Linked DNA regions of Homo sapiens. The protein of the gene in region 3 purifies or fractionates together with the protein of the main gene of each other region. This does not show direct contact. Each region holds a gene or a part of one and is shown on either strand. Other genes may lie near its edges.

The links.
Region 1: the proteins of LSR (region 3) and EPS15 purify together in Homo sapiens (affinity purification with mass spectrometry; 2 studies listed by BioGRID and IntAct, with this or other methods). This does not show direct contact.
Region 2: the proteins of LSR (region 3) and ITSN1 purify together in Homo sapiens (affinity purification with mass spectrometry; 2 studies listed by BioGRID and IntAct, with this or other methods). This does not show direct contact.

The regions. Positions count from the first base shown.
Region 1 is NC_000001.11:51,404,259-51,407,909, forward strand, and holds part of EPS15 (epidermal growth factor receptor substrate 15), read right to left. Parts: intron 1,851-3,651; coding exon 1,647-1,850; intron 1-1,646. UniProt on the Homo sapiens protein: Involved in cell growth regulation. May be involved in the regulation of mitogenic signals and control of cell proliferation. Involved in the internalization of ligand-inducible receptors of the receptor tyrosine kinase (RTK) type, in particular EGFR.
Region 2 is NC_000021.9:33,771,384-33,775,034, forward strand, and holds part of ITSN1 (intersectin-1), read left to right. Parts: intron 1-677; coding exon 678-940; intron 941-3,345; coding exon 3,346-3,495; intron 3,496-3,584; coding exon 3,585-3,651. UniProt on the Homo sapiens protein: Adapter protein that provides a link between the endocytic membrane traffic and the actin assembly machinery. Acts as a guanine nucleotide exchange factor (GEF) for CDC42, and thereby stimulates actin nucleation mediated by WASL and the ARP2/3 complex.
Region 3 is NC_000019.10:35,255,447-35,259,097, reverse strand, and holds part of LSR (lipolysis-stimulated lipoprotein receptor isoform 2 precursor), read right to left. Parts: intron 154-3,651; coding exon 34-153; intron 28-33; exon of another isoform or gene 1-27. UniProt on the Homo sapiens protein: Probable role in the clearance of triglyceride-rich lipoprotein from blood. Binds chylomicrons, LDL and VLDL in presence of free fatty acids and allows their subsequent uptake in the cells.

The DNA.
Region 1 (3,651 bases), on a different chromosome or scaffold from region 3:
TAGCTTAAACCCGGGAGGCTGAGGCAGGAGAATAGCTTGAACCCAGGAGGCAGAGGTTGCAGTGAGCTGAGATTGCGCCACTGCACTCCAGCCTGGGCAACAGAGCGAGACTCCGTCTCAAAAAAAAAAAAAAAAGTAGCAGGGCAATAGCTACTTTATACCACCCTTATCTATTTGCAGGATAACCTAGTAATCTGCCTTTTGCGCTTGAAAGAATATTTTATAATGCATACATGACTGCACTGTGTAAATAAAATCGAGTCTGTTAACTTTTCACTTTTAATACCTCTCAAACTTCTATTCTTCTCATTATCCCTTCTACGGGTACAGTCTCACTCTCTAATCCGTTTTCCACATTTCTAAAAGTTAATCACGTCACTTCTTGCTTAAAATTCTTCAATGGCTGTTCATTGCAGTAGGATAAATCCCCCAATGCTTTAAGATGAATCTAAATTTCTCATCTTCTGGCACTTTCTGACCTAAAATTGGTCATTTTTATCCAGGTGCACATGACAATCACCCATAGAGTGTGTTTTTAAAATATACATATCTGGCTCTATCCCAGAAACTAGTTCAGCAAGTTTGGGGAAAGGGATACACATTTATACTTTGACAATCACCAGAGGTAATGCAGATGCCTACTAGAAGCGCCTCATCTCTTACCAATACCCTCTCCACCATCACAAGATATCCTTCAGAACTTCTCAAGATTCTGTGCTGCATGTATTCTTCCACCTTGTACCTATACTAATACTGTTTTCTCTGGCAGGAATGTATCCTCCTCTTCTTTGCTTAACCACTTCTCACTTGTCTAAACTCGCAAAGCTTTCCCCAACAAAATCTTTATGAACCCCCTCCAAACTGTCCTAACTGAAAATTCTGCGCTTCCTTTAGCACAGCCCTTTAACACAGTGTTACACTACTACACTGTAGGCTGCTTGAAGGAAAGACTGAGGTCTCTTGTCTCTGTAGCTCTTATATTATGTAATACAGCACTCTTGCACATAGTTGGTACTCGTCAAATAATTGGTAAATGAATGTCCTTAACACTACGTAATAAAAATAATTTTAGCTTTTGGTGAGGGTACTTAAAAAAAAAGTTTTACTCTATAGAACCACCATTTTAAAAACAGGCTCTACAAAAAATAAATTAGCTGGCTGGGCGTGGTGGCTCACGCCTGTAATCCCTGCACTTTGGGAGGCCGAGGCAGATGGGTCACTTGAGGTCAGGAGTTCGAAACCAGCCTGGCCAACATGATGAAACCCCATCTCTACTAAAAATACAAAAAATTAGCTGAGTGTGGTGGCACGTGACTGTAATCCCAGCTACTCAGGAGGCTGAGGCAGGAGAATTGCTTGAACCCAGGAGACGGAGGTTGCAGTAAGCCAAGATCGCACCACTGCACTCCAGCCTGGGCAACAAGAGCAAAACTCCATCTCCAAAAAAAAAAAAATTAGCTAAAGTTATCTTTTTATACTAGTTAAAACGTACAATTGTTTGGATTAGGACTCTCTGCTTCTAAAAAGGAAATCTCAATTGTCCTCAGATGAGGCAAGGCCATGTATTTATATTAGATATAATGTCAGTGAAACTTGGATCTGCACAAGGAGGTTGATTATGAAGGTTATGAAAGTATTAGACTCACTGGAGATTCCTGGTGTATGGGCTCAGACTCTAGGTTGCTCTGGCCTTCAACATGTTCATTAAGGTTGGCTGTTTCACTGCTGCTGGTGCTGAGGCTGCAATAATCTGTAGCTCCGTTTACAAGAATGCTGTGTGGGCTACTGCACCAATTTAACTGACTATTATGATTTTCCAAATCTTTCATTTCCATCAGTTTCATTTGCATCTGCCAACACAAAGAAGAAATATAGAACAGAATTTATTACTAGAAAGACATGTAACATAAAAACGCCCTCCTCCACTTCCTGACGGGCTAGGTGTGGTAGCTCATGCCTATAATCTCAACACTTTGGGAAACTGAGGCAGGAGGACTGCTTCAGCCCAGGAGTTCAAGACCAGCCTGAGCAACACGGTGAAACCTCATTTCTACAAGAAATATAAAAATTAGCTGGGCATGATGGAGTGCACCTGTAGTCCCAGCTACTCAGAAGGCTGAGATGGGAGGATCACTTGAGCCCAGAGGTCAAGGCTGCAGTGAGCCATGATCACACCACTGCACTCGAGTGACAGAATGAGACCCTGTCTCAAAAAAATAAATAAAATAAAAATGGCTATACCTGTAGACTTGGTCTAGGATACATTTGCTTCCTTTAAGAAGAATCCTCTGGGAATGCTACGTGACTTAGAGAAAAGATTCAGTAATTTCTGACAATAAGTATTTCTCTCTTGAAATTTTAGTATACATGGATTTTTTTTTTAAAGAGATTCAAAAAAAGAAAATACTTTAAAGAATACCCATTCATCTGGTAGCATTCTCACTACAACAACTCTTTCAGGTTACCTGTTTATTGAGTACCTACACTGGGACAAGAACTGTGCTAAATGATACGGATTTTTAAAAATGTGTAAGTTCCCAGACCAAAACCATGACTCTGCTAGGGGAGACAGACATATAAGCAAATATGCAGGGAAAAATCTTATTATTGCTGTAACATAAATACAAAGTCCAACAAAAGCAGGATGCAGAAAATACCATAAAGAAATAAGAATTTAAGGTATATCTTGCATGACGAATGAGTAGGTAGGTACTCAGCTGCCAGATAACAGGGGGTAAGGAAGCGCAAAAGTGAAGGACTTCATTATATGTAATAACTGAGCACACTGGACTGGGTTTTAGAAGAACTGGATTTTAGATGTAGCTCTTTTCAAGGATATGTAACCTTGAGAAAGTTACTTGAACTTCCTTGGCTTTAGTTTGTTCAAATTCATAATGAAAGAAATCAACTCCATGATCTCTGTGTTTCTATCCTTTTTTTTTTAGTTTTTATTTTTTGAGACAGATTCTCACTCTGTTGCCCAGGGTGGAGTGCAGTGGTGTGATCTGAGCTCACTGCAACCTCTGCCTCCCAGGCTCAAGTGATTCTCGTGCCTCAGCCTCCCAAGTAGCTGGAATTACAGGCAGGTACCACCATGCCCAGTTAATTTTTGTACCTTTTAGTAGAAACAGAGTTTGGCCATGTTGGCAGGGCTGGTCTCGAACTCCCGGCCTCAAGTGATCCATTGCCTCAGCCTCCCAAAGTGCTGGGATTACAGGCATGGGCCACCACCATGCCGAGCCCTAACTATCTTATCATTCATTAAAACATTAGTCTTCATGTAGGGAAACCTGGAAATAAAGCAAAGGATCTATACATAAGACCAACTATAACACTGCAAATTTATCTACAGAAGGAACAATTTCCTTAAGAAAAAAGTTTCCAAATTAGCAAATGTGAATTCAAAATTAGAATCACAAAACAGAAGAAACTAGGTTATTGTTTATAAAACAGGCAACACTTATGGAGCATTTATGTACCAAGCACCATGCTAAAATGTCTTACAGGTTTTGCCTCATTAATCCTCACAGTGGCCCTAAGGGGTAGGGTATTTATTAATCCTCCAATTTTGAAGATGAAGAATCTGATACTAAGGTGATTTAGCTAGTAAGTGGCACACCAGTACTTAAACCTAGACCATCTAGCCACAAA
Region 2 (3,651 bases), on a different chromosome or scaffold from region 3:
CCAACACAGAAATGAAATAGACACTGCTGAGGACAGTAAGGGACAAGGATGATGGGATTGTAGAAAATGAAGAAATAAAATGGACATAAAGTATTAGAAAAAAAAGGATAGAACTGAGTAATCATTCTAAATTTATAATTGATGTGTTAAAGAAGGAAACTGAATAATGGGTTAGAAAAAATTGTTGACTGACTGTGATCTCCATAGGGATCAGGGCACAGCTTGTTCTTCAGTGTGAAAAGCCGAATGCTCACCTTTCACTCTGCTTTGAGAAATCTTGTTAGAATAGAGGACTCATCAGCACGGTTACAAGGCAAAGGGAAGGAGGGAGAGAGACAGAGACTCATGGTCCAGAAGAGAGGGGGTTAATTCCTAGGGCAAGCTCATGGGAAGAAGGGAAAGGATGGAGTAACAGGGAAGGAAAGGAGTCTGGATGGTGATGTAGAACTGCTAGATAAGGATCTTTTAGAAACAGTGTTTGGCGTGGAGGAGAAGATATAAACAGAGAGGTTAGGCAAAGGGGGTTTTCGTTGTGCTCATTAACAAGGACACAGAAGCTTAGGGAGTTCTGGGTTTGGGTTTGTACTACAAATTTCAAATACATTGGTGAGTTTTCCTTTGAAAAGAGTCCGTTGAAAATCTTGAGTTTTCATAGTTGCTGTGTTCCTTGTCTGAAGTAACGTTTGAAGATAAGAAGCGGGAGAACTTTGAACGTGGCAACCTGGAACTGGAGAAACGAAGGCAAGCTCTCCTGGAACAGCAGCGCAAGGAGCAGGAGCGCCTGGCCCAGCTGGAGCGGGCGGAGCAGGAGAGGAAGGAGCGTGAGCGCCAGGAGCAAGAGCGCAAAAGACAACTGGAACTGGAGAAGCAACTGGAAAAGCAGCGGGAGCTAGAACGGCAGAGAGAGGAGGAGAGGAGGAAAGAAATTGAGAGGCGAGAGGTAAGCAGGCGAGAGTGGAGCCACCCGGAGTTAGTGTGCGATCACCCCTTTTCAGAATTATCCAAGTGATCTATTCACGCCATCTTTGTCTTTTTACAATTCAGTAGTTTTAGTATATTCCCAAAGTTGTGCAACCATCGTCCCTAATTCCAGAACATTTTCATCACTCCAGCTCTTTACCCATTAAGCAGCTACTCCCCATTTCTTTCTCCCTCCAGCTCCTATCATTAATTTTACTTTCTATCTTTCTAGATTTACTTATTCAGGACATTTTTTATAAATGGAATCATCAATATATGGACTTTTGTTTCTGGCTTTCATTTAGCATAATGTTTTCAAGGTTCATCCACATTGTAAAATGAATCAGTCCTTTATTCCTGTTTATGGCTGAGTAATATTTCGTTATATGGGTATACCACATTTTTTAATTCATTCAGCAGTTGATGGTCATTGTGGCTATTATAAACAATGATGTTATGAACATTAATGTACAAGTTTTTGATGATACAATTTTGTAACAAACCACTGATACCAGTAAAGTGTTTTTCCAGACTGTTTTCTCTGTATACACCTATATAAAAATATAAAGGTTTATATGGCGGAGAGTGTAAGGGCTGTATAATTTTTTAAAAACCACTGTAATAGTATCATACCAATTACATTGTTCTGCAATCTTCTTTTTTTTTTTTTTTTTTGTTTGAGACAGAGTCTCGCTCTGTCACTTCCAGGCTGGAATGCAGTGGCATGATCTCAGCTCACTGCAACCTCTGCCTCCTGGGTTCAAGCGATTCTCCTGCCTCAGTCTCCTGAGTAGCTGGGATTACAGGTGCCCGCCACCACGCCCAGCTAATATTTTGTATTTTTAGTAGAGATGAGGTTTCACCATGTTGGTCAGGCTGATCTCGAGCTCCTGACCTCGGGTGATCCACCCGCCTCAGCCTCCCAAAGTGCTGGGATTACAGGCATGAGCCACCGCGCCTGGCCCATGCAACCTTCTTTTTAAACTCTTTTAAAAATATGTCTGGGACATCCTCCCTATATTCTATGGAAGGCTTCGTAAATTTAGCGCCATACCTGGAAAGGGGCTAAGCAAATCTTGTCTCTCTTTCCAATTTTAGTACATTACTGCAGAAGCAACACATGGTTCTTTCATGTGAATGAAAGATAAAAATGAGGAATTTTTCGATGTAAAAAAATAGCCTGAGTGCTGTGCCTCAAGCCTGTAATCCCAGCACTTTGGGAGGCTAAGGAGGGATGATCACTTGAGGCCAGTAGTTGGAGGCCACTGCATTCCAGCCTAGGTGACAGAGCAAGAACCTGTCTCAAAAAAAGAAAGAAACAAAACTTATAGCCATAACTCCTTTTTTTTTTTTTGAGACAGACTCTCGCTCTGTTGCCCAGGCTGGAGTGCAGTGGCACGATCTCAGTTCACTGCAGCCTTCACCTCCTGGGTTCAAGTGATTCACCTGCCTCAGCCTCCGGAGTAGCTGGGATTACAGGCGTGAGCCACCATGCCTGGCTGATTTTTGTATTTTTAGTAGAGACAGGGTTTCGCCATGTTGCCCAGGCTGGTCTCGAACTCCTGACCTCAGGTGATCCGCCTGCCTCGGCCTACCAAAGTGCTAGGATTACAAGCGTGAGCCACTGCGCCCGGCCCCGTAACTCCTTTTTGTTCAGACAGACACTAACAAAATTTTAATTTTCAGAATGAACAAAGATAGGCAAACTTTTCTTCAACGTACCAAAAAAATGATATTCTAGAGTATTTATTCAGAATTATTTAATAGACATTTACCATGTATCAGGTGTAGTTGGATGACCCATGAGTCAGAGGCAATTCCCATAGACTGTCAGATGCTCTGATATGTACTCTATCTAGCAGTCGTCAGAGCCAGTCGTTGGAGGGAGCAAAAGCTTTTGTGGTAAAAAGGAAATGAATGATTAGGAAGTGGGGAGTCGCAGACTTTTAAAACGAGTTAAGTAATAATTTCTCTTTTGGTGGAGTAAAATCAACTCTTGTTTGTTTTTGTTCAGGGGTGTTTTAGTTTGATTTTACTACATAAATTTTCCTTCTTGGCGTGTCAGTAAATAAGAAGGAGCATTTTTAGTTAGCACATCAAGCATTCTTGAAGGCATAAAGAATGGAATTCTAATGGGGAAATAATCCTGTCATCTTACGTAAATATAGTATTATGTAAATATAATACCCAGTTCTGTGTATTCCCTTTATTCCCATAGAAGGAATACTGTATTTTTATGTAATTTTTTGTTTTCTAATGTGATTTCTTGTAATGTTTAATATTTCATCCCTAAAAGGAAAGACTTCCTAGATGCCATTTTTGTGAAAAGACATTGTGTAGTGTAAGAACTGAAAAATTAGTAATTTGTCTCTGTAAATGTCACAGGCTGCAAAACGGGAACTTGAAAGGCAACGACAACTTGAGTGGGAACGGAATCGAAGGCAAGAACTACTAAATCAAAGAAACAAAGAACAAGAGGACATAGTTGTACTGAAAGCAAAGAAAAAGACTTTGGAATTTGAATTAGAAGCTCTAGTGAGTGAAGTTTGGTTATACTTTGAAAATATACTAAGATGGAACCATTAAAAACAGTAATAATTTTTATTATCTTTCATTTGTTCAAGAATGATAAAAAGCATCAACTAGAAGGGAAACTTCAAGATATCAGATGTCGATTGACCACCCAAAGGC
Region 3 (3,651 bases):
GGGCCATGCCTCCCCCTTCCCAGGCCCACTCACCAAGGACGATGAGCTCTGCGTAGGCCTCATTGTTCCCCTGGAGGTCCTGGGCTGAGACCACGGAGCAGTAATACACACCACTGTCCCCCCACGCCGTCTGGTCAAAGGTCAGGTCAGCATCTGAGTCGGGATGAAAAGGCGTGAGGGCACCTTGGAGGCTGGGGCACCTAACCCCTGGAGGGCCAAAGACCCCTTCCCAGCACACCCAGGAGGGGGCAAGCAGTGGGCTGGGCAGGCTGCAGATGATCAAATGCATATGCAAAGATTCCTACCAAGGGCACACGGCCTTTTACACCCCGTTCTAAACACCTGGACTACTGCAAGAAGTCTGTGAGGCAGGACCATTATCACTTCTGTTTTGTGGATGACATTTCGGGTCTGGAAAAGCTGCACAGCTCTTCAGTATAGAGCAGTAATGGTGCCCTCGGAGCCTGAGGTTGTTTTTTTTTTTCTTTCTTTAGAGACAGGGTCTCACTCTGTGGCCCTGGCTGGAGTGCAGTGGTGTAATTATAGCCCACTGCAACTTCAACCTCCTGGACTCAAGCAATCCTCCCACCTGAGTAGTTAGGACTACAGGCACTCCACCATGCCCAGCTTTTTTTTTTTTTTGTTTGAATCGGAGTTTCACTCTTGTTGCCCAGGCTGGCATGCAATGGTGCGAACTAATCTCGGCTCACTACAATCTTCGCCTCCCAGATTCAAGCAATTCTCCTGCCTCAGCCTCCCATGTAGCTGGGATTATAGGCACCTGCCACCACACCTGGCTAATTTTTGCATTTTTAGTAGAGATGGAGTTTCGCCATGTTGACCAAGTTGGTTTTGAACTCCAGACCTCAGGTGATCCACCCCCACCTCAGCCTCCCAAAGTGCTGGGATTACAGGCGTGAACCACCACACCCAGCAGTCTGTGCTTCTCAACTTACAGCCATCTCTGAACCACCTCTCAGAGCCAAAGTCAGAACTCCCCTGATGTGAACTGCCACCCACAGGGCCTAGTGTAGACCCCAGGGATGGGTGTGGAGATAAACAGGCCAGATTCTAGGTACCAGGAGATGCCCAGGCACCCATAAGGAGTGGGTGTGTCTATGTGGGAGAGAGAGACTTACCCTCCCAGTGCCTTGGTTCCTCCCCCTCCCCTTCCATCCCCACATTCCAGGTCAGGCCCAGGGCTTGGGGACGCTCTTGTCTGAAGCAGCTGCAGGCAAGGAGCCTGTTAACTCTACCATCCATCAAAGTGTTTTGGCACATCCTGTTTCCTCTCTGCTTCTCAGGCACTAATTAAATACCTTCAGCCTTTCACCAGGGTGGGACCAGGGCACCTACCAGGCAACTCTGCCTTAAGCCACTGGGGACAGAAGTAGGCTACATTGGGCATCTCGGGCAGGAAATGCCCTCAGCTTCCCGGCCTCTTTCCTCCTAGCCTGACCTGCCTGCCACCTTCCCAAGGACGCGCTGCCCTCCTGCATGACAGCTCTGTGACGGCAGCAACCACGCGTGCTGCAGTCCACAGCACCTGGCACCCCCAGGAATGAAAGAACCCTTGCTTTCTTCATAAGGAAGGCCTCATGTCTACAGAAAAATCCTCCTTGCAACAGTGTCTGGCTACAGCATTCCAGACGCCTTCCCTAAGGTCCCATAGTCCCATGGTCCCCAAGGCCCTTGGCACGACGTGGTCTCTAGCTACCGTGCCAGCCTCACCCCTGCCATCGCCTTGGTTCTAGATTTGCACTGTCCCCCTGTGGGCTGGGCTTCTCCCACGGCTCCCCCACCCAACTGCTGAAGTCTTATCTCCCAGCTTAGGGGCCGACCATCCTTTGCCTGGTGAAAATGTGGGCTCCGTGAGGCAGAGCCCTGTCTGTCTCAGCCACTGCTGGGTCCCCAGTGCCTGACACAATACCTGGCAAGGAGCAGAAATGAACACCCTCTTGGCCGGACATGGTGGCTCACACCTGTAATCCTAACACTTTGGGAGGCTGAGGCAGGTGGATCACTTGAGGTCAGGAGTTCCAGACCAGCCCGGCCAACATGGTAAAACCCCATCTCTACCAAAAATGTAAAAAATTAGCTAGGCATGGTGGCACGCACCTGTAGTCCCAGCTACCCTGGAGGCTGAGGCAGGAGAATTGCTTGAACTCAGGAGGCAGAGATTGCAGTGAGCTGAGATTGCACCACTGCACTCTAGCCTGGGCAGTAGAGTGAGACTCCATCTCAAAAAAAAAAGAAAAAAAAGGAAACGAACCCCCTCTCCTCATGCTAAAGTCCCTTAGCTTTTGTCATCTGTCTCATCATTCTGGGCACATGGCTGGATTCAAAGACACATTTCTTTCTTTCTTTCATTCATTCATTCATTCATTCATTCATTCATCCTTCAACAATAATTACTGAGTACCACCTATGTTCTAGGCAGTATTTGAGACACCTGGGATACCACAGCAACAGTTCTCAAACTGCAGCCTCTAGACCCTGGGGTTCCCCAAGACGTTTTCAGGAGATCCTGAGGTCAAAGTTATTTTCCCAACAATACTAACTGTGGAGTTTTCCAGAGGCTACGTGACATACAATAGATATCACAACAGACTGAAGCAGCTCTGAGAAGCCAGGCTCTTCTATCCAGCCAGGCTTCGGAGACTTGCAAAAAAATAAAACCATGCCACCTTCTCATTCACAATGTTTTGTCTGATTTCAGAAAATGATTATTTTTTTCATAAAAGGTATTTTATTTATGTTAATCTATAATGACTTTATTGTCATTTAAACTATTTTGTAAACTTTTCTCATTCTGCTGCCTATGAAAACAAACTCTTTGAGCTCTTAATTTTTTTTTTTTTTTTGAGATGGAGTCTCGCTCTGTTGCCCAGGCTGGAGTGCAGTGGCACGATCTTGGCTCACTGCAGCCTCTGCCTCCTGGGTTCAAGCGATTCTCCTGCCTCAGCCTCTTGAGTAGCTGGGATTATAGGCGCCTGCCAACATAACTGGCTAATTTTTGTATTTTTAGTAGAGACAGGTTTTTCACTGTGTTGGCCAGGCAGGTCTGGAACTCCTGACCTCAAGTGATCTGCCCGCCTGGGCCTCCCAAAGTGCTGGGATTCCAGGCATGAGCCACCTCGCTAGGCCTGAGCTCTTAATTAACCTCAAAATCAAGAATATAAAAGAGGCCTAAGCCCGGAACCTTTGAGTTATAAATCCTTGCCCTTGCCCTTCTAGAGTTCAGATTCTAACTAGGAAAGAAAGACAAATATAAAATGTTAACTATGTCACATATCAGACAAAGATAAGCTGTATGGAGAAAACGAATCAGGGACAGCAGAGAGTGCCAGGCGTGGAGTGGGGGCTGTGCCATTTTAAACAAGGAGGCCAGGGAAGGCTTCCGGATATGGTGACCTTCAGAGCAGATGTGAAGGGGTTGAGGACACGACTTACCCTAATGATCAGGCATCTAAGCCACTGTTTTTTTGTTGTTGGTGTTGTTTTTTAATTTTGAGATGGGATCTTGCTTTGTTGTCCAGGTTGATCTTGAACTCCAGGGCTCAAGTGATCCACCTGCCTCAGCCTCCCAAAGTGCTGGGATTACAGGCATGAGCCACCGCCCCTAGCCCCCACCGTTTATTGAGCTCTTAC